Linked DNA regions of Homo sapiens. The protein of the gene in region 2 interacts with the protein of the main gene of each other region in a pairwise test. Each region holds a gene or a part of one and is shown on either strand. Other genes may lie near its edges. The genes, in order: VSNL1, HUNK, AGAP3, ZNF793, MTMR10, KDM6A and GEN1.

Evidence for each region.
Region 1: the proteins of HUNK (region 2) and VSNL1 interact in a two-hybrid assay, tested with the Homo sapiens proteins (one large-scale study listed by BioGRID and IntAct).
Region 3: the proteins of HUNK (region 2) and AGAP3 interact in a two-hybrid assay, tested with the Homo sapiens proteins (one large-scale study listed by BioGRID and IntAct).
Region 4: the proteins of HUNK (region 2) and ZNF793 interact in a two-hybrid assay, tested with the Homo sapiens proteins (one large-scale study listed by BioGRID and IntAct).
Region 5: the proteins of HUNK (region 2) and MTMR10 interact in a two-hybrid assay, tested with the Homo sapiens proteins (one large-scale study listed by BioGRID and IntAct).
Region 6: the proteins of HUNK (region 2) and KDM6A interact in a two-hybrid assay, tested with the Homo sapiens proteins (one large-scale study listed by BioGRID and IntAct).
Region 7: the proteins of HUNK (region 2) and GEN1 interact in a two-hybrid assay, tested with the Homo sapiens proteins (one large-scale study listed by BioGRID and IntAct).

Annotation. Positions count from the first base shown.
Region 1 is NC_000002.12:17,648,488-17,652,554, reverse strand, and holds part of VSNL1 (visinin-like protein 1), read right to left. Parts: exon of another isoform or gene 3,146-4,067; coding exon 2,930-3,145; intron 2,775-2,929; coding exon of another isoform or gene 2,545-2,774; intron 1-2,544.
Region 2 is NC_000021.9:31,879,248-31,883,314, forward strand, and holds part of HUNK (hormonally up-regulated neu tumor-associated kinase), read left to right. Parts: intron 1-4,067.
Region 3 is NC_000007.14:151,134,654-151,138,720, forward strand, and holds part of AGAP3 (arf-GAP with GTPase, ANK repeat and PH domain-containing protein 3), read left to right. Parts: intron 1-3,076; coding exon of another isoform or gene 3,077-3,087; exon of another isoform or gene 3,088-3,444; intron 3,445-3,489; coding exon 3,490-3,660; intron 3,661-4,067. UniProt on the Homo sapiens protein: GTPase-activating protein for the ADP ribosylation factor family. GTPase which may be involved in the degradation of expanded polyglutamine proteins through the ubiquitin-proteasome pathway.
Region 4 is NC_000019.10:37,505,362-37,510,047, forward strand, and holds the start of ZNF793 (zinc finger protein 793), read left to right. Parts: upstream 1-1,577; 5' UTR 1,578-1,605; exon of another isoform or gene 1,606-1,946; intron 1,947-2,903; 5' UTR 2,904-3,042; intron 3,043-4,686. UniProt on the Homo sapiens protein: May be involved in transcriptional regulation.
Region 5 is NC_000015.10:30,988,829-30,993,053, forward strand, and holds the start of MTMR10 (myotubularin-related protein 10), read right to left. Parts: upstream 2,801-4,225; 5' UTR 2,679-2,800; coding exon 2,619-2,678; intron 2,010-2,618; coding exon 1,949-2,009; intron 1-1,948.
Region 6 is NC_000023.11:44,871,820-44,876,404, forward strand, and holds the start of KDM6A (lysine-specific demethylase 6A), read left to right. Parts: upstream 1-1,368; 5' UTR 1,369-1,732; coding exon 1,733-1,893; intron 1,894-2,104; coding exon 2,105-2,168; intron 2,169-2,356; exon of another isoform or gene 2,357-2,454; intron 2,455-4,585. UniProt on the Homo sapiens protein: Histone demethylase that specifically demethylates 'Lys-27' of histone H3, thereby playing a central role in histone code. Demethylates trimethylated and dimethylated but not monomethylated H3 'Lys-27'.
Region 7 is NC_000002.12:17,770,707-17,774,773, forward strand, and holds part of GEN1 (flap endonuclease GEN homolog 1), read left to right. Parts: intron 1-289; exon of another isoform or gene 290-392; intron 393-489; coding exon 490-581; intron 582-588; exon of another isoform or gene 589-1,488; intron 1,489-1,927; coding exon 1,928-2,078; intron 2,079-2,389; coding exon 2,390-2,426; intron 2,427-2,512; coding exon 2,513-2,593; intron 2,594-3,564; coding exon 3,565-3,695; intron 3,696-4,067. UniProt on the Homo sapiens protein: Endonuclease which resolves Holliday junctions (HJs) by the introduction of symmetrically related cuts across the junction point, to produce nicked duplex products in which the nicks can be readily ligated.

The DNA.
Region 1 (4,067 bases), on a different chromosome or scaffold from region 2:
TCACTGTCTTTACTTCTTCCTCTCCCATTCTCCTGGGCTGCTCTATTTAGGATTTTGCCACCAACTCCTCTGAAACTATTCTCAGCTGGTTCACCTATGGCCTCCAGGTTTCCAATTCCAATTGTCAGTGATTACTTTTCTCCTTTTACTTCTTTTATCAATAGCATTTGACATGATTGCACATTCCATTCCTTCCCCACAAAACAGTGTGTTTCCCTTCCAGGACTTCTCACTTTTCCTTTTTTACTTTGACCTTTCTGGCAATTCTTTCTCCATCTCCTTTACTGATTGTGCCTCATGTTCCTCACCTCTAAACATCAGGTTGCCCCAGGACCTCAGTCCTCTGGAAACCTCTTTTCTATTTATATTCTCTGTCTAGTTATACTCTGATATGTCCTCTTTCACTTAAATACCTGAATAAGTATCACAACACATGGGGCTGGTTCCCACCAGCCAGAGTAGAGAAACCTCACTAAATGTATGAGAAAATCAGTAAGAACCCCAAAATGGTCACAAATTGGGCACTGGGCTAACTTACTACAGAAAACCTACTCTCCATCTGCTCTAAAAGCTTAAAATTATAAAACTGCCTCGAAAAGATCACGCTAATTTACATATAACTTACCTGCCTGTCAAAACTAATCTCAGCACTCTATAAATGAAGACAACAAAATACAGACACTCTAATGCAACATTCATAATGTCCAGGAACCAATAAAAATTATTACACGTGTCACGAAGCAGGAAAATGTGACCCATAATCAGGTGAGAAATCAATCCATAAAAGCTCTGAATAGAAGAAAGGAAGAGCTAGAAGTGATGGGGAGAAACGTGGAAGAACTAAGAGAAAGAAAAGCAGCCGCTGACAGCCAGGAAATGGCCCGGACTGCCCACCGGGCCTTGGTGCTGCCGGGAGCTGGCCCAGCCCTCACAGTCAGGTCTCACACCAAACATAACCAATGTCACAAAATGCCAGTGACCATGATGGAGCAAGGCAAAAACAAGACCACTCTGTCATTAAGTCTGAACACAGACACAAAACACCAAGCATCCCTGCTTCCTGCTATGGTGAGTGACCACTGCTTCTTCACCCGTTAAGAGCATTGCATTGGTCTGTGTGCCCTCCTCCTAGGTATCTAATCATAGAAGTGTCCCCACTCCCTGACAGTAACCAATCCACAGTAAACCTCTGCTTCTCCGAACCCTCCCCAAATCACCCTCCCAAAGTCCAGATCCTAGAAGTCCTTTCTAACACCCTCCTGCTGAATTGCCCCAAGATTCCCTCACTGCAAGCAGTAATAAAGTCAACTTGTGTAAGTGTGGGTATGTCCTTGGGGACTTTGGCTGAAGGGCATTGACAAGGATTAGAGAGAAAAGTTTTGGAGAGGAAGGGTTTTGGTGGCCAATGAGGGGAAATGACAAGAAGTCAAAGAGGAGAAAAAACTTGGAAAAACCTACTCTGTAGGGAGCTTATAGAGAGACCTTGGAGGGAGCCAAGTTAAGTGTGGAAGATGGACAAAAGATTAAAGAGTGAGAAAGATGAGAAAATCAAGCCACATGTTCAGAATTATTGTGCTGTATCTTTTCTGATAACCTGCTGGAAAAAATATATATTCAATTGAATGAAGGGAACACAAGTAAAGAACTAAGATGTTAGTTTGCTGGGTATATTTGAAAGGGAGTGGGCATTGAAGATAGAAGGGGAGAAGCCAACGGAGAAGAAGAGACTGAAGATGTGGAATGAGAGGGTGTGCAAGTGAACGAGGCCAGCTTCCCAGGCAGGGAGTTGATGGGTGACTTCTCTCTGAGGCTGGGAGGAGAGTGAGAGTCCTGAGGGGAACTTGGGGCTTTGGCTTCTGTTTCTTGCAATCATCCCATTTTCTTGTGGGGATCCACCCTGCCTGATCTCAGCTCTTGGTGTCTGGATGGGGCATCCCCCCAGCTCCAGGATGGAGCACCTGGCTCTACCTTCAGCAAGTGATACCTTTCTCTCCTTGGTCAGAGTGGCTGGTGCAGGGGTGGGAACCCATGCTAAGACAGTCAATCAAAGGAAAGCTACCGAACCATGCATCTGCTATTGCATGCCTGCCAGGCTCCAGGCTGGGTCTGGGTTCTGGGCATGCAGCCGTGAGGGCAGAGCCTCCTCAGAGAGCTTGCATTCTGCCATATATTCCACTCAACAAGTTAATCTGGGGCAGGGACAGATGTTGGGACAAAACCCCTCTTGGTAAGGGTTAGATTGCTTTGGTGTGAGGGTGGAGTGGGCATATTTGGGAAGGTATGCAGGAAGGAAGACCTCTCTGGGAGATGGGATAAGACCAGAGATGGGAGCAAAGTGAGGGAGGAGCCCCCAGAGGCCAGGGGAGGGCATGCTGGGCAGAGAGAGAGGAAGTGGAAGGCCCTGAAGTGGAACCGGGCATTAGAAGAAAACCAAGAAGACCTTCACATTGGGAATGCAGTACGCAGTGGGTGGCGTGGCAGAGGAATCCTGGGTTACTCACAAACACAATGGGCAAAGCCTGCTTGCTGTGGAATGACCAGAACCTGGAAGGATGTCCCGGGAGCCCCTGACAGCCTCGGGTCCCCACTAGGCGCAGCTGGAGTGAGGCAGAGCAGAGATACACCAAGTGCCAGAGAAACAGCCCATGACATCCTGTGTGCACAGTAAGACAGGTTCGTGGGAGATCCAGTAGTGAGTGAATGGCAGATGACAATGCCACCGTCACGACAGTACGGGCCCCATGGCTTGGTTCTGGGACCTCCCCAGCACTGTGCTGCAGCGGGGACAGAAGCAGGAGAAGTCCAGGCGTGGTGTGCAGCTGGCAGGGCTCGAGCAGAGAGAGAAGAAGCCACTAAGGCCTGCACCTAGGAGGCTGCCGTGGGGTCTCCTTCTGTGCCCACCACCCGCCAACCACACCCCGGGCCTCACCTCGATGATCTCCAGCATCTCCACTCGGGTGATCTTGCCATCACCATCCAGGTCATACATATTGAAGGCCCAGTTCAGCTTCTGCTCAAAGCTGCCCCTGGAGGTGATGGACAGAGCGCAGATGAACTCTCGGAAGTCAATGGTGCCGTCCCCATTCTTGTCGAAGGTTCGGAAGGCATGCTGGGCAAACTTGGAGGCGTCTCCATAAGGAAAGAACTGCAAAGGAGAACACGCGCAGTCAGGTGTCGGGAGGGGATGGAATCGGGGCGACGAGGTAGGTTCCTAATGACGGCATCACAGGTGCTCCTGGGCGTTGTCGGAGCCTCACCCATTGGAGAGCAGTTTGGCCTGACTGTCAAGGGCAAGGGCAGGCATTAGGGGAGGCTTTCTCACAGCAGGTGCTCAGGTACAGGCATCTCATTGTTTCCTGTGGGTGAGGCTGGTGACATGTGGCTTTCAGTTGATGGGGCTTGGAATCGGTCAACAAGCACCACCTGATGCTAGTGTTGCAGCATCTCAGCTCACTCCCCCCAGGAACAGGACTGAGGCAGACAGCAGTTTCTCTCCCCACACAGGTGGTGCTACACGAACTTCAATGTTCCTCTAGATATGAGAATCTGGCTTCATCGCTGCCCAGTAGGGCCAGAGGGAGGGTGCCCAGACCTGGTTTCTCCTGCCACCAGCCCTCGTCCTGGGCCCACACTTATCCCCTCCCTGGGTGAGGTTCCAGTTTCTAACTTCTTTTTGCAGGGACTTTTCTTTTGCAGAACAGACATTTAAAACTCATTAAAAATAGAACATGACTGGGCTTATTTTTGAGAGACATAAAGAGGTTTCTTCACAGAGCCAACTGTCACCAGGGGTGTGTGGGAGGCAGAGAATGGACACAAGGAGGAAAGGGAAGCATAGACCACAAGGAGGGAAGGCCATGGGGAATCAGTAGGTGGTGGCCTCAGTCCCCTTGGACATAAGCCTAGGCCAGTCACAAACAGCAGGTAGTTCTGATAATTAACAAGGAAGAACTGCAAAGCCCCAAATACAACCAAAAACAAACCATGTGCTATTTTAAAGCAGAGAAGTTACGTATGTATTTCTGGATGAATAAATCTGGGTTCTGGGCTCTATAGGCAAGCACTAC
Region 2 (4,067 bases):
AAGAAATGCTTAGAGAACTGGAAATTCCTATTAATCCTTGGCAGGGACTTCTTGGCAAGAAGGAGGCATTTGCAAAGCACCTGCTTGGTGAGCCCTGTGTGACAAGGCAGTGCCTGTAATTTCGAGGATTGCATTCTGCAGTTGCAGGCGGATTCTTTTGAACTTCCTGCCCTGCCTCATCTTTTTGAAGTACTTGTGAATGATGGAAATTGGCACGTAGGGCCTGGTTCCTAGTGTTCATTGATACAGGTCCCACGGACTTCAAAGGGTGCTTTGAGTCAGCGCAACAGTGCAGAAACGGTGCCCACGGAGAGGAGTACAACCCTACATTTTCTCTGCAGGTGTTGAGTCACGGCTATAGCTACCCGTGCATACCAATCCGACTCAGGTCTGTGAGACTATAGAATTCTGCATGCTGCCAGCTATTGGAGGTCAGCGCGGCAATCATCTGTCCCAGGGTTTATCTGCCCAGAAGGGGTGGGGAGTGGCAGCCATGTGCCCCCGAAGAGAGGGACAGGTTGGGGTGTTCTCCATGGGAAGGAGGCTTGGGCACAGGGTTATCATTTGCCTTGGGACATATATTCCCTCTGTCGATTATTTATGGTAACGGAGAGACCTGCTCTCTTGGCTAATTGAAACCCGTAGATAATCCCCAGGCCTTATGTTAGCTGATGGGTGAAACTTCTTTCTCTACTCAGCCCTGGTCTAAGTACTGACCTGAATTGAATTTCACGCTTTCTGATAGGAGGTGCCACTGGGTGGTACGATGACCAGCAGGAAAGAGCTAGAAACACAGGGACTGAATAGTCCCCGAGGAGGGGGATGCCTCTGTGAATTCGAGACAGCTGTTCCCTCTCCTCCATCACCAGCACCAGCCCAGTGCTACAGTGTTTTACGGTTTTTTTCAGGGTGCCCCTCCCGTGCACATTCTTGTTAGATGCCTGCAGCAGCCCTGGTGGAGGGGGTAACAGCCAGCTTGCTGGTGTTCTTGCCTGCCTTGATTACGTAGAAGGGTGCCCTGAGTAGATCTTCTCTCTGACATTCTCTATGAGTTTGCTAGGATGGTTCTAACAAATTACCACACACTGTGTGGCTTCAACAACAGAAATTTATTCTGTCACAGTTCTGGAGGCTAGGATCCAAAACCAAGGTGTTGGCAGGGCCATGCTCCCTCTGCAGCCACAGGGAGAATCCTTCCTTGCCTCTTACTAGCTTCCGGTGGTGGCCAGCACTCTTTGGCATTTTCTGGCTTATGACTGCAGCGCTCTGTCTCTGCGTCTGTCTTCACACAGTGTTCCTCCCTCTGAGTGTCTCTTCTGTCTCTTAATCTTTTCCTATGTCTCTTTATAAGGACACCAGTCATGGGATGTAGGTCTACCCTAATCCAGTGTTGCCTCATTTTAACTCGATGACATCTACAAAGTCCCTATTTTCAAAGAAGATCATATCCACAGGTACCAACGGGACTTGAAGGTATCTTTTGGGGGAGCATAGTTCAAGCTCCAGCACCTTTTTAGACTGTCAGTATTGGGTTGTGGCAAGCGGATCTTGGGAAGGAGATGAATGTGCTTTTAGGGATTACTCTCAGAACTGACCTCTGCAAGGGAAGGGGCAAAGCAGCACTGGGCAGAGGGAGAAGCTGGGCTCCAATACCGCTCTCAGCCAAAGCCCCTGCCCATGCCGTGGTGAGTGCTGGAGCTGAGCTGGCCCTTCAGAGCTGACCAACTTGGGTTGAGAGGACTGGGATTTATATTTCCGCATCGGCCAGTCCTTGATGGGGGCTGCCCAGGCAAGGGGCATGGCCTCGTACGGGACAGTTGCTGAGGGCGGTTCCTGGGGAGAGCTCACAGCTGATAGCCTGCAGCTGAGGCAGTCAGTTCTTCAGCACTGACGGGGAATCTGGGGGTGCAGCCCAGCATTTGCTGTTTACTGAAAGAGACAGGGTCAGAGTCCAGGGCTTTTCATCTGAGTCCATACCATATGGACCGTAGACAACGTGGGCATCTTTTCCATGCGCATTTTGGATATGAGTGGTCATCATTTCCATGTGTTGGTATCAAGTCCTCTCATCTCGTTACCTTGAAATATACAAAGTATGGCCAGGCGTGGTGGCTCACGCGTGTAATCCCAGCACTTTGGGAGGCCGAGGGAGGCAGATCACCTGAGGTCAGGAGTTTGAGACCAGCCTGGCCAACATGGTGAAACCCTGTCTCTACTAAAAATACAAAAAAATTAGCCAAGTGTGTGTTCCTGTAATCCCAGCTACTCGGGAGGCTGAGGCAGGAGAGTCGCTTGAACCAAGGAGGTGGAGGTTGCAGTGAGCCGAGATTGTGCCACTGCACTCCAGCCTGGGTAACAAGAGCAAAAACTCCATAACAACAGCAGCAGCAACAACAACAACAACAACAACAAAGAAATATACAAATTATTGCTGCTAAATATAGTCCCCGTAGCAAACATTAGCATTTAGTCCTTCTATCTATGTATGTTTGTACCCATGAACCAGCTTCTCTTCAGCCTGCCCTACCTTGCTGCTCGACTGTGGTCTCTCTCCCTGCAATGAGGGAGCAGCCGGCGTGGCATCTCATTAGCAGATTCTATGTGCCACACGCTGGGGGATTTTCTGGCCTCACATTTCTCTTAGGTTAGAATCATCAGGGCTCTGTTGTGTTTCTCAGTACTTACAAGATTGAAAGCTCACTTTATATGTATGCTCTATGGGTTTTTTCCTGAGAACTCTGGGGCAACTGAGTGTTGGGCCAAGTTGTGGGCCAGCATGCCTACTTCAGAGACGGTGGCACTTTCCTGGGAAGAGACCCCCCCTCCCCCATCACTCGTGAGTGGTGGGAAAAGTTGTTGAAGGAGTTGTGGGAATTTGGATTTTTGATGAGTAGAGTAACAGTTTGGGACATTCTCATGGACAAAAAAAACTACTCAGGGTAGAGCCATCTGTTAACATCCTCTTAGCACTCTTACGGTGGCCACTGTGCCCTAGCTATGCAACTTCTAATCACTGGGTTCTTTTTGGTTTTTAATCATCTTTGTGTTTTCAAGATGCATTTGGTTAAGTTTTGGAATTGGTAATACAGACACATGGTCTGAAATTCAAAGGTTCTGAGAGGGTTTGCAGTGAGAGGTAACTGCTTCTTATCTGGGCTCTTCAGTTCCTGGATCTTCTCGTGAGAGGTCACTCCTCCTTCTAGTCCTTGTGTATCCCTCCAGAGATACCCTATATGCATAGAGACCCACATACATATTTGTAAATGCGTAGTTAGGGGCAGATTTTTCTTCTTTATTGATACATAATATTTTACATATTTATGGGGTACATGTGAGTGTTCCATGCATGGAGTGTGTAATGATCAAGCCAGAGTATCGGCGTGTCCATCACCTAAGTATTCATTTCCACGGGTTGGTATTATATCAAGTCCTCTGTTCTAGTTACCTTGAAATATACAAAGTATTGCTACTAAGTATAGTCACCCTAACAGACATTAGAATTTAGTTCTTCTATCTATGTATGTTTGTACCCATGAACCAGCTTCTCTTCATCCATCCCTCCCACCCACCAGGGCAGATGTATTTTTAAACTGTACATGCTGTTCATTATCTTGCTTTTTCACTTAGCAATATGTCTTGAGCATTCTTCCCCATGACTACTACAGAATTGCCTCACTCTTTATGTTAATTAGTTATTGCATAGTAGTCATTGTGTGGAAGTATCATGTTGACTTAACCATCCCTTGTTGATGGACATTTAGGGAGTACATAATTTTTTTTTTTTTGTTATTCTCAAACCATACTTCAGTAAATATCCATGACCATTTGTCACTTTGTAAATGTGACCCCTCAGTGTATCTGAGGGGTAAATTCCTAGTCTTAGGCCAAAAGGTATGTCTATTTTAACTGTTGATAAGTATTGCCAAATTGCCTGCCATAGAGGTTGGCAATTTATAATCACATTGATAACCCTTATAATTTATAAGGGTTCCCAACTTATAACCACACCCATCTGGTATGGGAGTGTTTGCTTTTCCACATGTCAGCCAACAGGGTACTCATTTTGA
Region 3 (4,067 bases), on a different chromosome or scaffold from region 2:
GCCTGGGCACAGGGTGCTGGCCAGCATCACACTTCAAGGTCATCTCAGCCAAAGACATGTGCCCTAACGCAGCCCTCGTGGAGTTAGTTGAGGTGACAGCAAATGCCTAGACGAGCAGTTGATCTGGATGTCAGATGGGGCCAAGTAGTGTCATGTTTGGGCAGTGGTGCTGGTGGTCCTAGGCCCATCTCTGCATCTGGATCCGAGGCAGGCGATGGGTGGGGGCCATGCCTCTGGGTGCATGGCCGGCATCTCAGCCAAGGTTGGCATATGGAGATAGGGGAGGTGGAAGGGGACGGAGCTGTCTGAGGTCAACCTGGTGCATATTCTCAGGCCTGAGTGAGAGGCGGGTCTCTGCTCAGAGAGGACTGAATTTAGACAGGATCTGGAGGCAAGAAACTCCAGTGAAGAGCTGTTGCGTTCTTGCCTTTTCAACTGACAGTGCTGGCTCAGGTGAAAGGCCTCCTGTCCCCAGCAACTCCCTAGTGCCGCTTCATTCCTCCTCCTTTGGGCCCCCAGGCCCCATGCTCTTCCAGGGTCCGTCCTTCCACACCCGTTTCCCTCGCTTCCAGAGCCCCTGGCTCCCGATTGCTTTCCCCCAAGACTTCAGTATCCCCAGTGTTGTCCTAGACCATTGGATCTCATGTTCCCTGGGCCCAGTAACAGCTGCCCTGCTGGTGCCATTCCTGTGCCCTGTCCCAGCAGTCAGCGCTTGGCAGCACAGGTCTGCAGCTGGGTGAGTCACCTCCCTAGAGGGCCTGTGCTTGTCACAGTGAGGGGAGGATGTGACAGACTTAGTGGACAGGTGGTTGGGGATACGACATCCAGTCCCCTGGAATGGATGGGAGAGACCCCAAACAATAAAGAATTGTCCCACTCACAAGGCTGATGGGACTCCGCTGAGAAAGCCCAGGTTAGAGGGAAGGAAGGCGCAATGATGCCTCCAGGTGTGGTCCTTGTTGGAGGCAAGGCACCTGAACCAGGTGTGCTGGGCCCACTCTCGCAGAAACACCGTGGACCAGCCCGAAGGCAGGGGAGTGGCCAGGGGGAGGGGCCTGACACAACTGAGATGTACCCTATGCAGTGGATGTCTCTGCATCAGGTCCCAGGTCCTCAGCAGCTGTGAAGTAGAGATTATTGTCCCCATTTTAATGAGGAAACAGAGGCTTGGCATAGCTAACAAACTTGTCTGTAAATTCCACAGTAAGTGGGAGACCTAGGGTTCAACCTAACTGTGTCTGACTTGAAGAGCAATCTTCTTTCCTCTAAGCCACCCTGAGCTCAGAAAGGAAGCCTGTGAGGTGGATGGAGGGAAGGAAGGAAGCTAAGAAGGAGAAGGCCGGCCACCACCCATCATGGGGCTGTGCCAGTGGGGGACCTTGAGCCTGCCGTGGGGTTGTACTGGCCTGATGGCAGGTCACATGCAGTCTTCAGTGCTCTGCCCGGAGAGCGGGTCAGAGCTGCGGGGAGCCCTCTGGCACCGGCCCCCAGGAGCCCCTTTGGTCAGCTTGGGGTTTCTCTTATCATTCCAAAAATGAGGAGCAGGCCCAAGTGAGTCCCTTTCCTTGACAGCAGGGAGCCAGAGGACAGCTGGGCTGTTTCCCTAGAGCAAGGGAAACGAGAAGACGCTGTCCTGTCCCGTTCCTGTCCCTGACATCCCTCACCTGGGAGCGGCAGTGGCATGGAGGAGACAGCCCCGTGCCCTCGCTCCTGTAATGACAGCGCCCACACGCAGGAGCTCGCGGACGGTGCCCACCCAGCCCGCGTCCCGCTGCCGCATGCCGACGCCGACACCGACCCTCGTGCACACTCACACATGTCTCTCACTCACCGGGCGATGTTAACATCTCATTATCTTTGTTACTGTAATTACATTATCCGCTGCTTTATGCAGAATTATCCTCCGAGGACTAATTGATGGCTCCATGTTTAATTCATTAATCATTAGCATCAAATTCGACAATTACAGTGCACACTGATTGTGGGATTGCAGGCGTAATGAGGGGAGAATTAACAAAGAAAAGGGAAAGCACTTTCCCTCCCTCAGGATTTTGGGTCGGGGGCTTGGGGAGGAAGTTGGGCCTGTGATGTCTTTGGATGGGGCTAGGGATGAGGGGGAATAAGATTTGGAACCTGGAAGGGAATGAAAGCAGGGGTGAGGAGAAGCAAGGTATCTGAGAAATGAGGGACCAAGTGTGCACCCCGGAAGGTTTCCTGAGGCGGGACCTGTGAGGGCAGAGGACGGGAGGTGGGTGGGATTCTGAAGAGGCAGCCTCTACATGTTTCTTCGGGGCCTGGAGATGGAGACCGGCCTGTAGCCTCTGTGCTGCACGTATGTGACTAAGCACTTACTATGTGTCTGGTCCTCTTTGGGGTGTTGTGACAGATACAAGAGGAACATAAAACTTGCTCCCTGCCTTTGGGCGTCTCCCAGCAGCAGAGCTGTGGCCCCTTGGGCCATTCCTTTACCTTCCAGCTGCTGCAGCCTGGTGCCGTCTCCCCGCAGGCTTCCCCTCAGTCCCGCCGCCTGCAGGGCTGGTGTGAGACCTGGCGCCTGCCCTTCCCCTGGCTGGGCCTCTGCCTGCTGTCTCCAGCTTTGGCCAGCTCCGGGCCCCTTCTCTGCTTTCCCACTAACCTCCAGCACCTGGCGGGCTCCTCCGCTTCAAGGTTGAAGCACCTCAGGTTCGGCCCCCGTGTTCTTAGACCGCCTGGGGCCATTTCTTTGTGGTCTCAGTGTTGGGTGGACTGAAGAAGGGGAAGGAAGCTTAGGTTCTCGGAGTTCCAACTCAGGCCTTGTACCACAGGCCTCTGAGGCCCCACGGCTGTTCCCAGAATCTCTCCAGCAGGGGCTCAGCCAGGGAGTGAGGTGGGAGAATTGTGCGGCGCTCTGTCCTCCCTCCACTGCCGGCCGCCGCGCCTGCCCCAGCCTTGGCTTTCCTAGAGCCTTCGGTTCCCCCTGGCTCTGCCATTCTTCCCTGATGGGAAACGAAAGATTAATTTTCTCCAGCCCAACAGGATAATTACTAATACTAATTAGACATAATTACTTGAATTTGATACACTTATTTCTCGTCAGAATGGCAGTAAAGCTGAGGCGAAGCAAATGGCATATGTGGACTAGAATGGAGGGTGCAGGGGCCCAAGCCAGGAGGGGCCCCTCAAGGAGCACTGCGGCGATGGGTGTCAGCACCACCCAGCTCGTTCCACAAGTTGGAAGATCTCTGATGCAGAGACCCCCCGCCCCGCTCCCGGACCACAGTGAGGGGACAGAGCTGTGGACCGTGAAGATCTGGGGACAGGCTGCTTCCTAAGGCACACAGGGTCCCTGCGCAGCCTCTGGCTCTCCCAGAAGCTGGCCCGCCACCTGATGAACCCAGTGCCCTGCTGAATGTCTCAGGCTCTGCTCTGCAGCTCTATTTTTAGGATAGTATCTTTGAGAATCCTCCCCTGCCCGGCCTCCCTTCCCAGTCTGACCCTTCCCGCCCCCAGGTGCCCCCCACTCGGCCAGCAGCGCATCCCTGCACTCTGAGCGCCCCCTCAGCAGCTCGGCCTGGGCTGGCCCGCGCCCTGAGGGGCTGCACCAGCGCTCCTGCTCCGTTTCCAGCGCCGACCAGTGGAGTGAGGCCACCACTTCCCTGCCCCCAGGCATGCAGCACCCTGGTGAGTGGTGGCTCTGCTGCTTCCCACCTTTTCTGGGGCCCCAGTGACAGAGAGGAGGGGAACTGGGCAGCATTCTTGGCTTGGGAGGCTGCAGTGGGACAGTGTCCAGGCCAAGGGGTGGGGCCCAGCTGGGCCCTCCTGGGCTTGTCAGAGAGACCCTGCTTCGGGGCTAGTACTGACGTTGTCTTGGAAGCAGAGTAGGGGCACTGTCCCTTCTCCAGCCTCCATGTGCAGCCCTTTTCCCCAGAGCCCCCATCTGCCTGCAGCCCTGCCTGGGGCCGGCGCTAGAGGCCCACCCTCTGCAGCTCCTCCTCCCCTTTGTCCCCAGGCGGCGCTGGTGGTGGCTCCCGCATCCCCATCAGCCCCCCGCGCAGTTAGCTCATCAGCCTCTCGGCAGGGGGACGGGG
Region 4 (4,686 bases), on a different chromosome or scaffold from region 2:
AAACTATTGGCAGGGGCTGCTGTCATCTCAAGGTTTGACTGGGGCTGGGAGATGTGCTTCCAAGGGTGATACACTTGGTTATAGGAAGGCCCCAGCTACTCCCAGGCTATTGGGTGGAGGGCTTAGTTCCTTGCTACCTGGGCCTCTCCATAGGCTGTCTCGGTATCCTCATGACATGGCAACTAACTTCTCTCAAAGTGGGGGCAGCAGCCTTTAAGACAGAACTCAAGGTGCCATTTATTATATTTAATCTCAGCAGTGACATCTATCACTGCTACTGCATTCTATTAGTCTCACAGTCCAACCCTGGTACAATGTGGGAGGGAACTACATAAGAGTGTGAATAGTAGGAGGTAGGAATCATTGGGAAACATTTTGAGGTCAGTTATTGTATCAGTTGCTAGGATGACCAGTTGGAATTAGGATTTTTTTAAAAAGCCATTTTCATAAGACAAGGCAATCTTTTCTAGAGATGTTCCAATACCTGTGATATGCGGAGCACTGCGCTAGGTGGTATTCAAGGCAGGCCTGTAGTGAATGCTGTTGGACCCAGCCACCACCCCTGAGCAATCATATGCAGACCGCTGGCTTCTTAACTGCAGACACCTACAGACTCAGCCTAAGACTTTCCCACGAGGCAGGCTCGAAGTGCTGGAGCTTTAACACCTCTGGAGTGGCCCTAAAACAATTAGGAAGAGAGATGGTGTAGACATATGTAAGCTTCATCGGCCTGGTGGTTGTGAAAACTTGGAAGTGGTTTCTACACAATCCCCCAGAGGTCCCAAGCTGACTGAGCCCTCATTGATCCAGAGCTAATCTGCTCACCTATGCACTGTATATTCGTTCCCATCGCTCCCGTCTCACTTCTCCATCCCCCACCTACCAAATAAACTGCTTGCACTCATTCTTTCCTCAGGTCGGCTTCTCGGGCAAGCCTCCTTAGGTAAAAACCTTGCTTTCAACATTTCCTTTCCATTATGCGCTAAGAACTCTGATCTCTTCCCGCTGCGGCAGCCCCGCCCTTTCCTTGCGGCTCCGCCCTTTCCGTGAAGTCACGCCCGTCCTTAGGCTGTCTCTGTCTCCCTAAGAGCGAGTCTCTTCGCTGCTCTCTAACTCCTAGAGCTGGCTCAGAAAGAGTTTCACATTGCCATAGGGGAGCTCCTAGGAGAGGCTGCACCCATTGCACGTAAGAAGCGGTAAAAATGTACGCGGCCATCTTACCAGGCTGCCGGAGACAAAGAAAGCTCAGCTTTGATGTCTGGGCGCCACCATGTTGGCCACAGGAGGTTTTGGCATCTGAGATGCTGAGTTAAGAGCAGAGACGACATCTCTGTTTAGGGATCCAGGGACACTTCCTTCTCCTTGTCCTAAAATAGCCTTATCTTTTGGTCTAGCAAAGGGCTTAATCATCCGTTTTACGGCACAGTTTTAAACATGGCCGCCCCAGGTAGGAGTCAAGTGGGCGTCGCCATCATACCTCCAATTACAGCTTTGAGAAACCCAGAATCCTGTTCACTGGAAGGTTGCCGGGTGGCGGCTGACAGCCTCAAAGTCGCAATTGAGTCTGCGCACCGGCCATTCAGGATGGGACGACCTTATACCGCGGTGAGGCGGCGTGGCAGGACGACCAATTTCAGATTCAGGGCGCGGATGCAGCATAAATGGGAAGGCACGGTTTGAGAAACGGTCAAACCTGGGACTAGTGGAGGATAGTGAGCTGCCGACTACGGTGGCCGACTGGGTCAGCTATGGGTGCCCGTGAGGGTCAATGACAAGGGAACTGAAGGGTTAAGAGATTCGGCGTCTGAGCCTCGCGGGGCCTCAGTGGTGGCGGACAGAGGTTTGCGGGAGTCAGTGGCACGGTCTCTGAAGAAGATGGATTGGGAGTGTGTGGGAATCAATAAATGCGAGTTCTGTGAAATGTCTTGATTTTCAGGGTGCATGGGGTCAGTAATAGTGGTCTTCATGGGTCTGGGGTCAGTTGGGATTTTTCAGACACTGGTTTAGAGATCTTTAAGGTTAATGATCGGAGCCCGAGAGGATCAGTGATCGGAGGTTCTAAGTTCTGTGGGCAGTAATAGTTTGGGTACTGGAATTGGTGATTGTGGAAACTTTGGGGTTCAAATGAGGGAGGTCAGTGGTGATGAATGTTTGGAGAAATGTTTTGGGCCATCGGTGATTGAGACTTACTTCATATCATCGGTGGAGGATCGGAGAGTATTAACGATTGGACTTTTGTAGATCAGGGAATGGAGAATAGAGTCAAGTGTGCTTATCTTAAAGGTACGCCTCAATGAGGCTCAGTGATTCGGACTGTCACTTGTGGGTGGGAGTGGGACTGTGAGAATCAACAATTGATCCTCAGTCGTTGGGATATCATTGGCAATCAGTGTGGATTCATGATTGGGGGCTGTGTAATTTCACTGGCAATCAGATCGGATCGGTGTTCTTTGTAGTTACTGACCTGTAGTCTCTCCTGGTCAGATTTGAACATAGGGGAATATCAGTGACTATGAAAACCTCTGAGGGTTGGAGATTGGAGGCCAGTGATTGGGGGCACTATGCGTGTCTGATTAGGAGACTTATAGGGGTTGGTGTTGAGGGTCCTGAAATGTGGAGATTGGGGATGGGAAAATCACAGATTTGAGGCTGCAAGCCTGCATAGCGGGAACACATTTCACTCAGGTGACACTCCCTAGCTGAATAGCAGCCAGTTCCTCTCCACCAAGGCCCATCTGAAAACTCTTTTTTGAACCCACACCCTTTTTATTGTTCTCTACAATAATGAAAATAATTTGAAAGGATCGCGTGCTAAACTTATCTAAAGTAACATGTTACTAAAGACGTGGCTTCTATTCTTGTTAGGGATCTAATGCATATTTTTTCCTAATGTTTCCTTTAAGGCTCTTTCTGGCAAAGGTAATGACATACGCATCTGTGCCAGCATCCCAAGAGTGAGGCTGGTTTCTGGAAATCCATTCTGACTCTGTGACAGCGGGGATGGATGTGACCTTGCCCGTGGTTAGAAAACAAATTTACTGAGTAAGTATCTAAAATGATAATGTAGGCTGTGTGCAGTGGTTCATGCCTGTAATCCCAGCACTTTGGGAGGCTGAGGTGGGTGGATCATTTGAAGTCAGGAATTACTAGCCTGGTCAACATGGTGAAACCCTGCCTCTACTAAAAACACAAAAATTAGCCGGGCGTGGTGGCGGGCGCCTGAGGTCCCAGCTACTCTGGAGGCTGAGGCAGGAGAATCGTTTGAACCCAAGAGGTGGAGATTGCAGTGAAACGAGATTGTACCACTGCACTCCAGCCCGGGTGACAGAATGAGACTCTGTCTCAAGATAAATAAATAAATATAAATAAACAAAATAAAATAAAATGATAATGTAAAAGATTTGGCTGAAAGAGCAAACAGAGTGTTTAGAAAATACTTTTATCTAGGCTCAACTTAAATTATCAAAGGAAGAGAAACTAGATTTGGAATTTATTGTATTCTGAGAAACTTTTTGCCTTGTCCTATATATTTTAGGCATAGCCATTTTTAACCTCCACTAATCAATTCCTTATAAAGTCCTGGCAGAAAAAATTCAAGACAGATAAAGCCACAACCGCCACAAAACAAAATGTAAGCTACTTTTAGAAACTGTTCCTCACTGAAATTAAAATTGAACTAATAGTTATTAAAATGGCTGAGATGGGATTGCAAATAAAATGGAAATAAGATTTGAAAAAATAGATTTAGGGGATATAAGTGCAGTTTTGTTACATGGGTATATTTCACAGTGGGGAAGCCTGGGCTTTTAGTGTAACTATCACTTGAATAATGTACATTGTACCAATCTGATAATTTCTCATCCCTTACCCGCTTCCTACCCTCCCTCCATTCAGAGTCATCTGTGTCTATTATTCTGCTTTCTATATCCATGTGTACACATTATTATCTTATAAGTGAGAACATGCAGTATTTGACTTTCTATTTCTGAGTTAGAAAATAAGATTTTGACCATTAATGAAAAAGTGCAATGTCAAAACAATATTTTAATTTTAAAAAATTATTACGTTTGATCTTTATGTAACCTTCAGACAAAGCACAATGCCTGTAGCATCTTAAGAAATAAAGGCAGCTGGATGCTAAGGCAGGTAACATCTTTCAGAACCCACATAGGTCAAATTTTAGTTTTAAAAGCAGATAGTCCCTGTTTTTCACTTGCACAGAATCAAAGACAGATAGCTGCTTAGCATGGGTGAAATAATAAGCCAGGGTAAGGAGTTTGGGTAATTTTTTCTCCATGTTGATTCCCTTCACCACCTATACTGTGCTCAGTGCCAGGTTTCAGAGCAAATAATTAAAAAGAAATTTTACATAAACTTTTTATTGTGATATATATGCAAAAATGTATATAAATATGTAGCTCAATGAATTGTCACAAGGGAATACCCCTGGGTAATGCACTCAGATCAGAAAACAACATTCTAGCACCGTGCCCTCATGATGCCCCTCCCAGTCACTACTCTGCCAGAGGTTCCCTAGCTTCTAATCTTAGTATTGTCTGTTTTTGATCTCTAATTTAATGGGATATTCATTGGGGGGGAGGAGCACCATGGGGAGAGGCAAGATGTGGCTGTGTTTAAACAAAATTTCCAAGTTTGAATTGAGATAATTTCATTTATATAACAGAT
Region 5 (4,225 bases), on a different chromosome or scaffold from region 2:
AAATACGAAAAATTAGCCAGGTGTGGTGGTGGGCTCCTGTAATCCCAGCTACTTGGGAGACAGAGGCAGGAGAATCGCTTGAACCTGGGAGGCAGAGGTTGCAGTGAGCCGAGATCACGCCACTGCACTCCAGCCCAAGTAAGAGTGAGACTCTGTCTCAAAAAAAAAAAAAAAAAAATTTAAAAAAAATTTTAAAAAATTAAAAAGCAAGCACTGACATTTACAGCTAAGACCATGTTGTTTCTGAGTGTGAAATCATAGTATGCAGAGTGGAGGAATCAAAGCCTAAGAACCAGGCCTGTTCAGAGTAAACGAAGTCAAAGTTCAATAGCTCATAGGCACTCATTCAAGATGAGTACTGTTTCCTCGTCCCTGCATTTTAAATGCTCAGAGTGACTAAGACTAAAACAGAGCACACAGGGAGCAAGGGTTACTTAGTAATTCTACTGTTCACTCTGAGGAAAAGTACAAATGATTAATTAGTACACACTGTTGAGTGAAAAGCACTAACAAAATCAAGGGAAAATATTTATGACTCCCATAGTAAAGTTTAAAAAACACTTTTTAAACTTTCATATGGAACCAAAGTTTGGTGTTTTTAATATTTTGTCCCTATATAATATTTAAAATTTTAAAGTTTCCACATTTGTTCAATTTTTACCTACAAAATTCTAATTATTTTACCGATTTGGCTTTAAGTAATGAGTCAGATTTTGCAATGCTGATAGTAGCCACACAAACTAGTATTTGATTTCAGGTTTTTTTTTTTTTTGAGACGGTGTCTCACTCTGCCGCCCAGGCTGGACTGCAGTGGCAGGATCTCGGCTCACTGCAAGCTCCGCCTCCCGAGTTCATGCCATTCTCCTGCCTCAGCCTCCCGAGTAGCTGGGACTACAGGCGCCCGCCACCATGCCTGGCTAATTTTTTTTTGTATTTTTAGTAGAGATGGGGTTTCACCGTGTTAGCCAGGATGGTCTCGGTCTCTTGACCACGTGATCCACCCGCCTCGGCCTCCCAAAGTGCTGGGATTACAGGCATGAGCCACCGTGCCCGGCCGATTTCAGGTTTAAAACAGGCTTTCCTAAGTATCTGGCTACTTCCCCTAATAATCGCATTAAACAACTGACTTTTCCTAATTATTATACAATTGTTATACAATTCAAAATACCATACCAATATTCTGTATGCTCTAAAACAAACCCCTTTCTACCACCAATCCCTACTTCCATCTCTAAGGTCACCTATAGCAAATTTTGTTCTAAAGCAGTGATTCTCAACTGTGAGATTTTTGTCCCCCAGAGGTAGGGGACAAAAAAAAATTGGCAATGACTGGTGGCATTTTGGTGTGGCAACTAGGTCGCAACTAGGTGGTGGGGGATAAGGGTACTACTACTGGCATCTAGTGGGTGGAGGCCATCTTTGTTGCTATACACAGGACAGCCTGCCCGTCCAACTATGAATTATCTGGCCCCAAATGTCAATTAAGTGTCTCTGCTGGGAAAAGCCTGGTTCTAAACTGAAACAAGCAAATTTGCAAATACAGCTGACAACTTCAAAAAACAATTGCCAAGCAAGTAATTCAAAGTTCACTAAGCTCTGTTATTGGTATAGAGACACACACATAATAAAGGCGTCTTTTTATACTATCAAAATGCATTAAAATGATTAATCATTAATGCAATAAGTGGCAAACACGTCAGCAAAGAGTACTTTTACTACCCAAGCAATTAAACATATACATCTTTTCAAAAAGAAATTCGGGAGACAAAAAAGGAAATGAGGTAATGACATTCTTGACAGTTCCTTTTTCTCCTCTCAGTCACTAGACTTTTAACTGGAGAAAGTTTAATGAGAGAAGGGAAGTTAACCACATGATACTAGTCGGCAGAATAATCTTAAACCAAAATACGTTGCTAAAGTATCTGTTAGAATCCTAACTAATGTTTACCTGGCAAAAGGACTGGCTCCAGTTTTTTAATCTTCGGTTCCGAATTGATCTTATCGTCAGTCTGAAATACATTAGCAAAATAAATCAAAATCTCAATCCCCCCACCCTCCGTAAAATGCTACAGCAAATGTTGTTTTCTAAGTGATGACACATGCGAAAGACACACAGCCCCCCATTTAAATTCTTTCGCATATTAACTGAGCTGTTTTTAAGATCTGCTCATTATCGACTTGGAAGCCTAATAATAAAAAATGTTTAAACTGCCAGTGTCGCTTCCAGGTGTTCACATTTATGACAGACGGGTAACCGCCTCGACCAGTGACCCCAAGCGCTGCAATCATGCTGGCGGTCATACGAGGGAGGGTCGATGGGTTGGAAACTAAAGAAAACCCCAGCTCCCAAGGCTCCCCTGGGCCTCAACACTCCGCAAAACTACGGACGACAGAACTTCGGGCAGAGAATGGCTGCAGAAGAGTTTTACAAGTTTTCGCCGAGCCAGTGGGGGCTCCCGAGAAGGCGCATTTCGCGGCGCCGGGAATCAGGCAGCCGCGCTGCTGTGGGCAGGGAGACGCGCGCAGCCTCCTGGGGTCCTCCAGTTCCCGGGGGTCGGCCTGGAGGCTCCACGGAAGCGCAGAGGAGAGTCGGGCGCTCGCGGGGAGGGGTTGTTTACCTGGGGCGGTGGCAGGAGGTAGGACCTGAAGGTGGGTTTGGGCGGCTTGAGGGAGAACATGGTGCCGCCGCCTTTTCGCCCCGTTCCCGTCGCGGGCCAGTGGCAGCGCCGACGCCTCCGGGCGTAAAGCTCTCAGTGCGGCCGCCCAGGCCCTTTCTGCGGCCAGCCGAGCCGGGCGGACTGACGGGCGGGGATACGGCGCAGCGCCCGCCCGAGCGGGGAGGGGCCGGGCACAGCCAGGCCGACGCGGGCGCCGGGGCCCATCCCCGGAAGGGGCCCGGTGCCCCGCCCCGAGAGACGGCGCGCGCAAGGCCGCGGCCCGCCGCTCCCTGACCGTGTCCCGTGCTAGTGCCGGAACGCAGCGGTGGCGCCAGGTGCCCGCTGGCGGGCCCTCAGCCGGGGCGCCGCGGGGAGCGGAGCCCGACGGCCATCTCAAGAGCGCGGCCTCTGGAGGGTCCTTCTACGGCGGCCCGCAGGGGTCAGGCGGCCCGCGGGGGCCTACGGCGGCCTGCGGGGGCCACGGCGGCAGCGGTGGCTGCCTGGGACGGCGGCGCGGGGCGTCTTCTGGCCGGGCTGCAGTCCTGGGACAGTTCCCTTGACTTACACATGGGCCGACTTCGCCCTCCGGCCTGGGCGAGCATTGTTTTGAAGCTCTCAAGGAGGAGCTCAGGGCAGGGAAAGGTGACTCGGGTCCAGGGGTCAGGCGGTCACCCCGTCTGCGCCCAGGATGCGAGGAACCGGCACTGGGAAAGTGGGCCGGTGCCGCCAAGCACAGGTCACTTCTGAGCTCTTACGGTAATTCTGACTGGAGCAGATTTTGGTGGGAGGGGGCTAGTGGTGTTACATTTTGGTGAATCTATTACTTGAGACTAGGTCCTTCTTATACCTTGAAGAATCAAACCCCAATCCAGCATTTTATGATTAATGCCACAGGGAAGCTTCCATGCAGCCATACCAGTCACAATCACGCTGATGAGTGTTACTCACAGGAACATTTAACAATTTAAATAAAGATTCAAAAAGTTATTCTTTTTCTGAAAATAATTTATCCTGGATTTAGAACCCTACTGATCTTTCAGGTTAACCTGTTTGAATTCCACTCTGCCCAAGAACCGTAACCATAATTGTATTTTTTAGAGTCAGGGTCTCACACCATCACCTGGGCTGAAGTGCAGTGGCATGATCAGGGCTCACTGCTGCCTCCACCTCCTGGGCTCAAGTGATCCACGTGCCTTAGCCTCTCAAGTAGCCGGGACTATGGGCATGAGGCACCGTGCCTGGCCATAATTGTACTTTAAAATGTTAGTTCCATTGGATTAGAAGTGTTAAAATCACTGTCGTGCACACTTTTTAAAAAATTTTTATGAATATGCTGTTATTCCTCTATATTCAACGGATATTTTCTACAAATACTCTTTAAGCAATAATTGGCTTTTTCTTTACACTTAAATGACTCTGTGATTTGGGTTTTTCTGTACAGGTTTTCTTAGGATCTGCAATTCTAATATGTGACCATACAACTGAAAAGTGGAAAAACTCTATTTCCAGATTTATTATTGTCTTAACACTAAATTTTATGGCATTTCCCAGATATCTGGTTGTATTAG
Region 6 (4,585 bases), on a different chromosome or scaffold from region 2:
ATTTTTATTGGTTACAGGTGGAAAACCTATTGAAAATATAAAAAACTCCGTTTATAAACAGAATCTTGTCCTTATATGTCTATCAATTTTTTCCTATCCCTGTTATAAGACATACAGCTTAGTAAATAAATTTGCCTTTTGAGAAGAGTAGTCGAAAGGCCTATTTTTTTTTCACCTATAGTAAAGATTAAAAGTCAGACTAAAGCCTTTCCCCTGCACCTGAGAGACAGAACAACAAAATGTTACTGTTGTCTAGGGGTTACAAACCTGCAGGTTTTGGGGGATAGAAAGGATTTCTTGGGCCACCAGCTGTGATGATTTAATTATGTCTTCTCTCAGGTCTGTCCACAAGCAGCCCCTACTTTTGTAAGAAGGCTCCACTGAAATCATGGCAATAGAACCCAACATTCTGCAGATCCCGCTTCACAATTTCTCATTGCTTTTTCTTGTAAGACTGTAATGAACTACTGATAAGACACAGGGTAAACACAGCACGAAAATCTGGCCCCAAAGTGCCGCCAACAGACAGACCTTTGGCGGTGGGGAGCCATGGTCGGCAAGCCAGGCCCCGCGGGCGACTCTTCATTCCCTCCGGCCTGGGGCGTATGGGCGGGGGTCAGGGGAGCCCTTCCCCCTTCACTTTCGGCGCGGGTGAGGTGATCGGGGCTGCCAGCGCAGGTCTGGCCTAGGGCGGCACCCGGACCGCGGGGCACGGGACCGGCAGCCGCTCCCCGAGCGCCCTCCTCGCGGAGGCCATTATTTCCAGCAGTGCCAAAAGTCTGAGCCTTCTTCGGAGGGCAGAGGTCGAGGGCCGTGCGCCGCCTCCCGGCTACGCGACCTGTACCAGGCCCTGTGGGGTCCCGGGACCCCTGGAGCGCGCGCGGGACGGCCGGAGCCGCGGTCTGGGCACATCCCAGAGCTCGCGGGCAGGCAAATGCCGTCCTTGGCGTCTTCGCCCGCCGCTCGCGCCCGCCGCGGGCGGTGCCGGACCTCGCCCTTCCCCACCACTCCCCTCCCCCTCCAGAGCCCGCCGCGGTTCCCGAGGTGACACGGCCCGGACCCTCCATTCTCTGCCCCAGTGTATTTAACCAGCACAACCTAACAGGAAGCTCCCTCTCGGTGACAACCCTTCCCCCGACAGACGCGCCCAGCAGCCAACCACCGGCTAGAATTGGCCTGCGTCCCGCTCCCATCTCGGTGGCGGCCTCGGTGGGCGGGGCTCGGGCAGCTAGCAAGTTAAGTGGAGCCACGGCTGACGTGAGTCAACAAAGGTCACGTGAGGCGTGCGGGCCGCGCCGATTGGTGGCGCCAGCCGGGCGGGGAGGGGGGGTCACGGCGGCGGCGTGGGGTTCGCTGTGTGACACAATTACAACAACTTTGTGCTGGTGCCGGGGAAGTTTGTGTCTCCAACGAATCCCCTCAGTGCTCCCCAGCCCCGCGCGCTCCGGCCGTTCCCGCCGTCCCCGCCTGTGGCTGCCCCCTGCCCAACCCCGCGATGTGACCCTACAGCCGAAAGCCGCCGCTGCCGACCCGGGGGCTCCGCAGCCCCTGCCGCCGCCGCCGCCGCCTTCACCGCCGCCGCGTTGGGATTTTTCGTCGCCGCCGCCCGCGGCGGAGGAGGAGGCGGCGATAAAGTTGGTGTGCTGGTCCCGCGCGCAGATTGGGGGCGTCACTGCGGGCCCCGGTCCGAGGGGGGGTGTCGGCGTTGGAGTTGTGAATTCGCTGCGTTTCCATGAAATCCTGCGGAGTGTCGCTCGCTACCGCCGCCGCTGCCGCCGCCGCTTTCGGTGATGAGGAAAAGAAAATGGCGGCGGGAAAAGCGAGCGGCGAGAGCGAGGAGGCGTCCCCCAGCCTGACAGCCGAGGAGAGGGAGGCGCTCGGCGGACTGGACAGGTACGGGCCGCCGTCACTCGCCCGGTCGGCTCCGGACGGGCAGTAGCCGCTCTCCCGGGAGGACCGAGCGCGGCTTGTCTCTGGCGGCGGCGGGGCGGGCACCTCGGTTTGGCGCTCTTCGCGCCGCCTCCGCTGGGGCCTCGGGCTCGGGCAGGGACGGGTCGGTGGCGTTCCCTGAGCGTTAACGAGTAAACTGTGTCTGTCTCCACAGCCGCCTCTTTGGGTTCGTGAGATTTCATGAAGATGGCGCCAGGACGAAGGCCCTACTGGGCAAGGTAAGGCAGCTGCGAGTCGGAGCGCGGACACCGTCTCCCTGGCCGGCGCCGCGCTCGCCCCGGGCCCCGCGGCCGGGTCTGTGCTCATTGTGGCCACGGACGATGGTCGAGGGGCTTCCGGAAACTATTTCCTGCCTCTGCTCTCCCCCCACCCCCGGGTACCCTGCTTGCTCCCTTGCGAAATCGCTCTTTTCCTCTTGTAGCTGGAGGAACAGAGACGGGATCGCTTTGGGGCCGGGCTCAACTGGGTCGACACAACTGCCTGCTATTTTACAGCTTTTTGAGGGTAGGCCGATGATCTTCGAGGTGCCTGTTTAGGGTCAAGGGATCGTGAGTGTGTTCAGATTTTCCCAAATTTCGGACTTAACTTGCCTCTACGGGTTTAAAAAAATTCTTTTCCTTCAAGCAGGCTGTTCGTGATGCCTACTGCTAACCAAATGTTTTAGGCTTTCTTGTGTCCCCGCTCCCAGAAGGGGGAAGTTTCACGGAGTTTAGGTCGGTGAAGAGTTTGCATTGGGCTGTTGACATGTATCTCGATTGCAGTGTGTGTTACCTGAAGTTAGGTGACTTGTTTACTTTTTGGGTCTTTTTGGCATAGAAATACCGTAGTTATTTGTAAACGTGTTCTCTTCCTGGAGCCTCATTTCCTGTGTGTCTGACAGGGGAGGCTGGGGAGGATTCGGGGTGTAGTCTTTTTTTATTTGTGTGGAAAGTTGTTGGCACTGTCATTTAGTTAAGTAATGGCTGCTCCTATCGGCCCAAGATGGCGGGACAGGGTGGGAGGAGAAAGTGAAGGGGGGGGTTAGGGGGAGGGTGTAGAGGTAAACATGGAAATAAATAGTAGCCGTGAATAAGCCTTTCCTTCGGAGTGTGTAGCTCAGTGGTGTTTAAAAAAAATTACCCAAGATTATTTGCATATAGAATTCTTATACCTTTCATAAGCTTGGAAGCAGCATGCATAAGCCTGGTAAATGCTTATCAACCTGTAGCACATTTAGTTATCCATCTGTAAGCTATTGAACAAAGGCTGGAGTCTCAATCTGTATGCATCAGTTTATATTTCCTGACCAAAATCTGATTGCAATGGTATTTGAATACTTTCTTCGTAATTGGGACCGTGAAAGTTGGAGTGTGTGCTATGGGTGTTGTATCCGTTAGACATTTTCTTTTCTAGCTGAAATCATAGCTTTGCATTTGACACCTAGCTTTATTGTTGCAGTTGAGACGCAAGTTTGAAATAAGTCTAACATTTTATTCTTAAGTTGATTTTTTTGTTGTTCTGAATTTTTGTCTGTAGCTTGGTTTCGCAGAGTCATCAATTCCTTTTTATCTGTAATTACACATTTGTTTTTATTTCAAAGTAATTATAAGGTGTTATATTGCATATAATCAGAAAACTAAATGGAAATAATGCTTTTCAGTAAGCCCGGCCCCTTTGACCGATACAGAAAACTTGAATTAAACTTTGACTACGTAGGTATTAATTGGCTTCATTACAATTATTGCTGTAAAAATGAACAGTGACTAGCTCTGGAAAGATTTAAGCGTCAGTAATTGTTGGTCTCCTGCCTTAAAGTTTTTTTTTTTTTTTCCAATTTGAGTATTTAAAGTATTTTATTTAAAAATATTTGACTGCTGTCAAAGTTGTCATTATAAAAGATTAAACATGATTTAAATTAAAAGAGCATTATTTTGTTTTGGAGGGATTATTGTTGGTCTAACATGGGTTAATAAAATTGCTTGCAAAGATAATTCACGTGGAAAAGTTTGGCCAAATCGATTGCTTTTGGTTATGGTGATGAAAAAATAAATGGAATCTGATGTTTTATGTTGAGAATGTGTAAAATGCTAGTTGATTTTATGTCTTAGAATGCTCATATTCATATAGATTCACTGCGAATAGTGCTTAACATTGGATTTCGGATTGTAATATTAAACCCTGCAGTTATGCACTAACGAGTTTAAATTTTAAAAAAGTAACCATTTTCAAATATTCTTGGCAAGTTGTGCATTACTTGATGTTTGAATACATCTTAAAAATGAAAAACTAGTGAAGCTTCACTATGTTTGGGGCCTTCATGATATATGGGGTAATTTGATGAACGATTAAGCAGTTTGTTAAACTAAAGAAAAAAAAATCTTCACTGCTTCAGACTCAGTGCTTGTGAGGTGTCCTACCTGCTTAGGACAAGATTCATCAGCCTTAACATTAAAATAAAACCTTCTGTAATATGTGCTTGCAACCGCATATAGTTCTTGGTTGCATCTTTGTGAGCCTGAACATACCAGTGGGGTGTGTAATGTAAAGCCTGACATTATATAACTTCGCACCCTCTGTTTGAATTGGGTTCTGAATGAAGTGAATGAGCTGGAGTCCTGCTGTAGGAAGTCTTGAATTATTTAGTTTCATCCTTCTT
Region 7 (4,067 bases), on a different chromosome or scaffold from region 2:
ATGATTTAGCTTTTTGATACAGTTTTCACCCAGAAGATTAATGTTTTATTTAATTTTATATATTACTCTTTACTCTTCTTTCTGATATAGAGAAATGTTCATGATTCTGTTTTGTACTCTGGCACACAGAGTCAGTCTGCTCACATACTGCTGCCTAACTTAAGATTCTTCAAAAAAAAAAGACTGATTGGATATATATATACATACATATATATATATACAATTTTTTTTAATAGAGATACCGATATATAGATACACACACACATATACTCTCTCTCCTGTCTTGCAGTTCTGCTGTCCTTGGGCCTTGGGGCCACATTTAAAGCTTGTGACTGAGGGTTTTCCCACACTAGGCCAGCAACTTTATCAGCCACCAAAGGGAAAATAATTAGGTAGGTGAAAGGGAATAGATCAGCCTGATATTTGAGAACATACCGTTTTTGTGACCTCATTTTTTTTCCTTTTTTTAAAAACCACTTTCTATTAAAGGTTTAATCGGTGGAATGAAACATCTTGTAACTCTAGTCCACAACTGCTAGTCACTAAAAAACTGGCTCATTGTTCCGTATGTTCCCATCCAGGTAAGGAGACATAGGGAATGGTTATTAGTATCTCATACCCATGTTTTAATTCTTGTTCACATAGTACTTTTTACATGCCAATATTAATAATACTTTGAAGGGTTTTACATTGTCTTCTCCACTAGATTAGGAATTCCTTGCAGTCAGTTTTGTTATATACACATAGTAGTCACTCAGTAAATGTTTATTGAAACCAATAATGTGATGTAGATGATAAATATAAGTACAGTTTCAAACTATGATACCAAATTACTTAGATCTTAAAACTATGTTTTCAATATAGAAATCCATTTTAAGAAAAAAATATATACTAATAAGTCTTAGGGAAAATGGAACTGAAACCATTTGTTAATATATTGGTGATTTATATTTATCTACTTAAATGATTCTTCATTGTCCTGTAATGCATTTTGTGTGTGAAGACAGTGACTTAAAACTAATTTCTAATACATGTTCACTATTCTTGAAAATAGCTTGGATCTTCTTCATTAGTCTTGGTTTAAAAAAAAAAAAGACACTACGGAACACGTACTGGATCAGAAAGGCCTTTCATTCCCAAAAGAGATTAGGATATCATGTTAACTCATCTTTTAAAAGAAATTCTGCTATATCTAGTTGTCTTAATATATTTTTATTAACATTATTAAATTATAGATAAAATCATGGAAGAAAATCAATGTTTTTATAAATAAGATGCTATTGTATAGTTTTTTGATAACTTATAAATGACAATTTTAGGTCATATCAAGTATATGTGCTCTTACATATTCTCAAGACAATGTTGAAAGTAATCACACTTTGCTTTTAAAGGGAATTAAATTTCCACACCCGTGCCACAGTCATCATTTGTTCATGTTCCAAGGATAGTTTAAAAATAACTGTAACTGAGAGCTAGACACTAGCAGAGGTAATTAACTGCTATATTCTTTTAATACACTCGTTAAAGAAACTATTCTATTAGAGCTATTCTATTAAGTAAATAATCTTTTTTGCTAGTAATTACATCCTACTTTTTATGCATGTAGCTTCCACCTAAACCAGAAAGTTTTCTGTTGTTGATTATTGTAAATGTATAATTTCAAGTGTCTAATTAACACTTTCAGATAGAAGAATAATTTTTTCTAAAGTGTCATGTGATAGTAATAGCTCAAGATCTACTTGAGCCCAAGAATTACTATGGTGTCTATTACTCTATTCATCCTAAATGTATTGAAACCTTTCTATATGCTAGGTAGTGTGCTAGGCAATATTAATTTTGGAAAATTTAGATACTGGCAAAAAGAATGTATGTAGAAAGTAATTATAAAAGGCAAAAAATATTATACTTTTTTTGGGTCTCCATAAAGGTTCACCTAAGGATCATGAACGTAATGGATGCAGATTATGTAAAAGTGATAAATATTGTGAGCCACATGACTATGAATACTGCTGTCCTTGTGAGTGGCACCGTACAGAACATGATAGGCAACTCAGTGAAGTAGAGAACAATATTAAGAAGTAAGTTTTTTTAAAAACTCATGATTTTTCCTGGCATGACCTATACACATACCTTTGGTTGAATTATTTCCATATAATCTTTCCCCATATCTAGATTAGTCACATGTTTAACTAAATTTTTTTTTCATTTCTGTTCAAAAATTTAGCTAACCTAGGAGATAGTAATGTAATAGTTATTCAAAGGGAAGCTTGACTGTTTGGGATACTGTAAATTCACATTTCTTATTAAATGGGAGGAGATTGGCTGAGATGATTTCAGAGTCTAAAATTGTCTGATTATAGTAATAACATGTATATAATTTTTTTTTCAGGAAAGCTTGCTGTTGTGAGGGATTCCCATTCCATGAGGTAATATCCAGTAATTCAACTCTATTAATTTTAGAAACTTTCTTAAAAGTTTAAATCTCAGTTTCTATTTTCTTTTTTCTTGCTAGGTTATTCAAGAATTCCTTTTAAACAAGGATAAATTGGTGAAGGTTATCAGGTACCAAAGACCTGATTTGTTATTGTTTCAGGTATCTGAAAATAAATTCTTCTTTACTGTATGAAGTTATATGCTGGAAAGATAGGAACAGATATTCACTCTGATTGGTCTTAGAGGAGGTTTAAAATTAAAACAGGCAGCTCTTATATTTTTTCAGCATTTATTTCTACTCTCTCATTTGCCATACAGTGGCCATCTTTGCACACTATAAGACAAAGTATAGTTATGCTGTTTTAGAAGATGCCTTAATTAGCATATGTGGATATATTGCATCCATGGATATTTTGGGGGAAGAGGGTTTAATAACAAGAGAATGTTAAGATCAAGTATATAATTATGGAAGGTAGTATCATTTACAAAAACATTGATATCTGAAATTAATGACCTAAATTTAAATTTGGACCGTATTCCACCTACTGTGTGACCCTGGATGTGTGTTATTCTCAAAACAGAAATAATATTACTTATCTCATAAAGTCACCATGAGGATTAAATGAGATTATTTATATTAACTCCTAATATAGTGGCTAGGGACACGGAGTGGCTCAATAAATTGCAACAACTGGGTACTTACAAGTACCAGCTGTAAGTAATGACAGCCACATTAAGAACGACAGCCACATTAATAATGACAGCCAACATTTGTTAGACATTTAAATTTGCTGTTATGTTTAATGCATTGCATGTAATCTCAATCTTTGTAATCTGTGAAGTGGGTTGTAATATTTTCACATTACAGATGGTAAAACTGAGGCTAAGAGAGTTTAAGTAAGTTACCCAACATCTAAGAAATATCATCCTGGCGTTCAAACCGAGAGCCTTCACTCTTAATCATTATGCAATAATGATTCTTCCTTAGGAGGCTCATTGTTTCTAGAATATTCTCATTGATACTACTTTAACTTACGTTAATTCTAAAGGAAAAAATATTAATATCACCTAGGAGTGCTATTTGTCTCCAAGAGATAACAAAATCTTGTTTTATTTTTATTATATTTATAGAGATTTACTCTTGAAAAAATGGAGTGGCCCAATCACTATGCATGTGAGAAATTGCTGGTACTTTTGACCCATTATGACATGATAGAAAGAAAGCTTGGTAGCAGAAACTCTAATCAACTACAGCCAATTCGGTAATGTAAAGAACTGTATGGTGAAGGTGGTGTTTTTACTTGAGTATTTTATAATTAAAATATTCCTAATATCTTTAAGCTCGTTTTTGTAAAGGTGGAGGAAAGGCCTCCTGGAATATTAAAAGCTTATTCAGGGCTTATAATCAGAACAACATAGTAAGTCATGCTTTATCATACTTTTCTACTTCAAACACATAGTAATAATAGATTATAAAAAGAAACAAGCATAAAAGGATATAGCCAGGCTTTATAAGACAACTATTTCAGTGGACCAGAAAAGGAACAAACGTGTTAAGGGAATGTGGGAACTAAAACTGGTTTTGCAGAGCCTTAAATCTAGAAGCAGCCGTATCATCCAGGAGGTAAATCGCT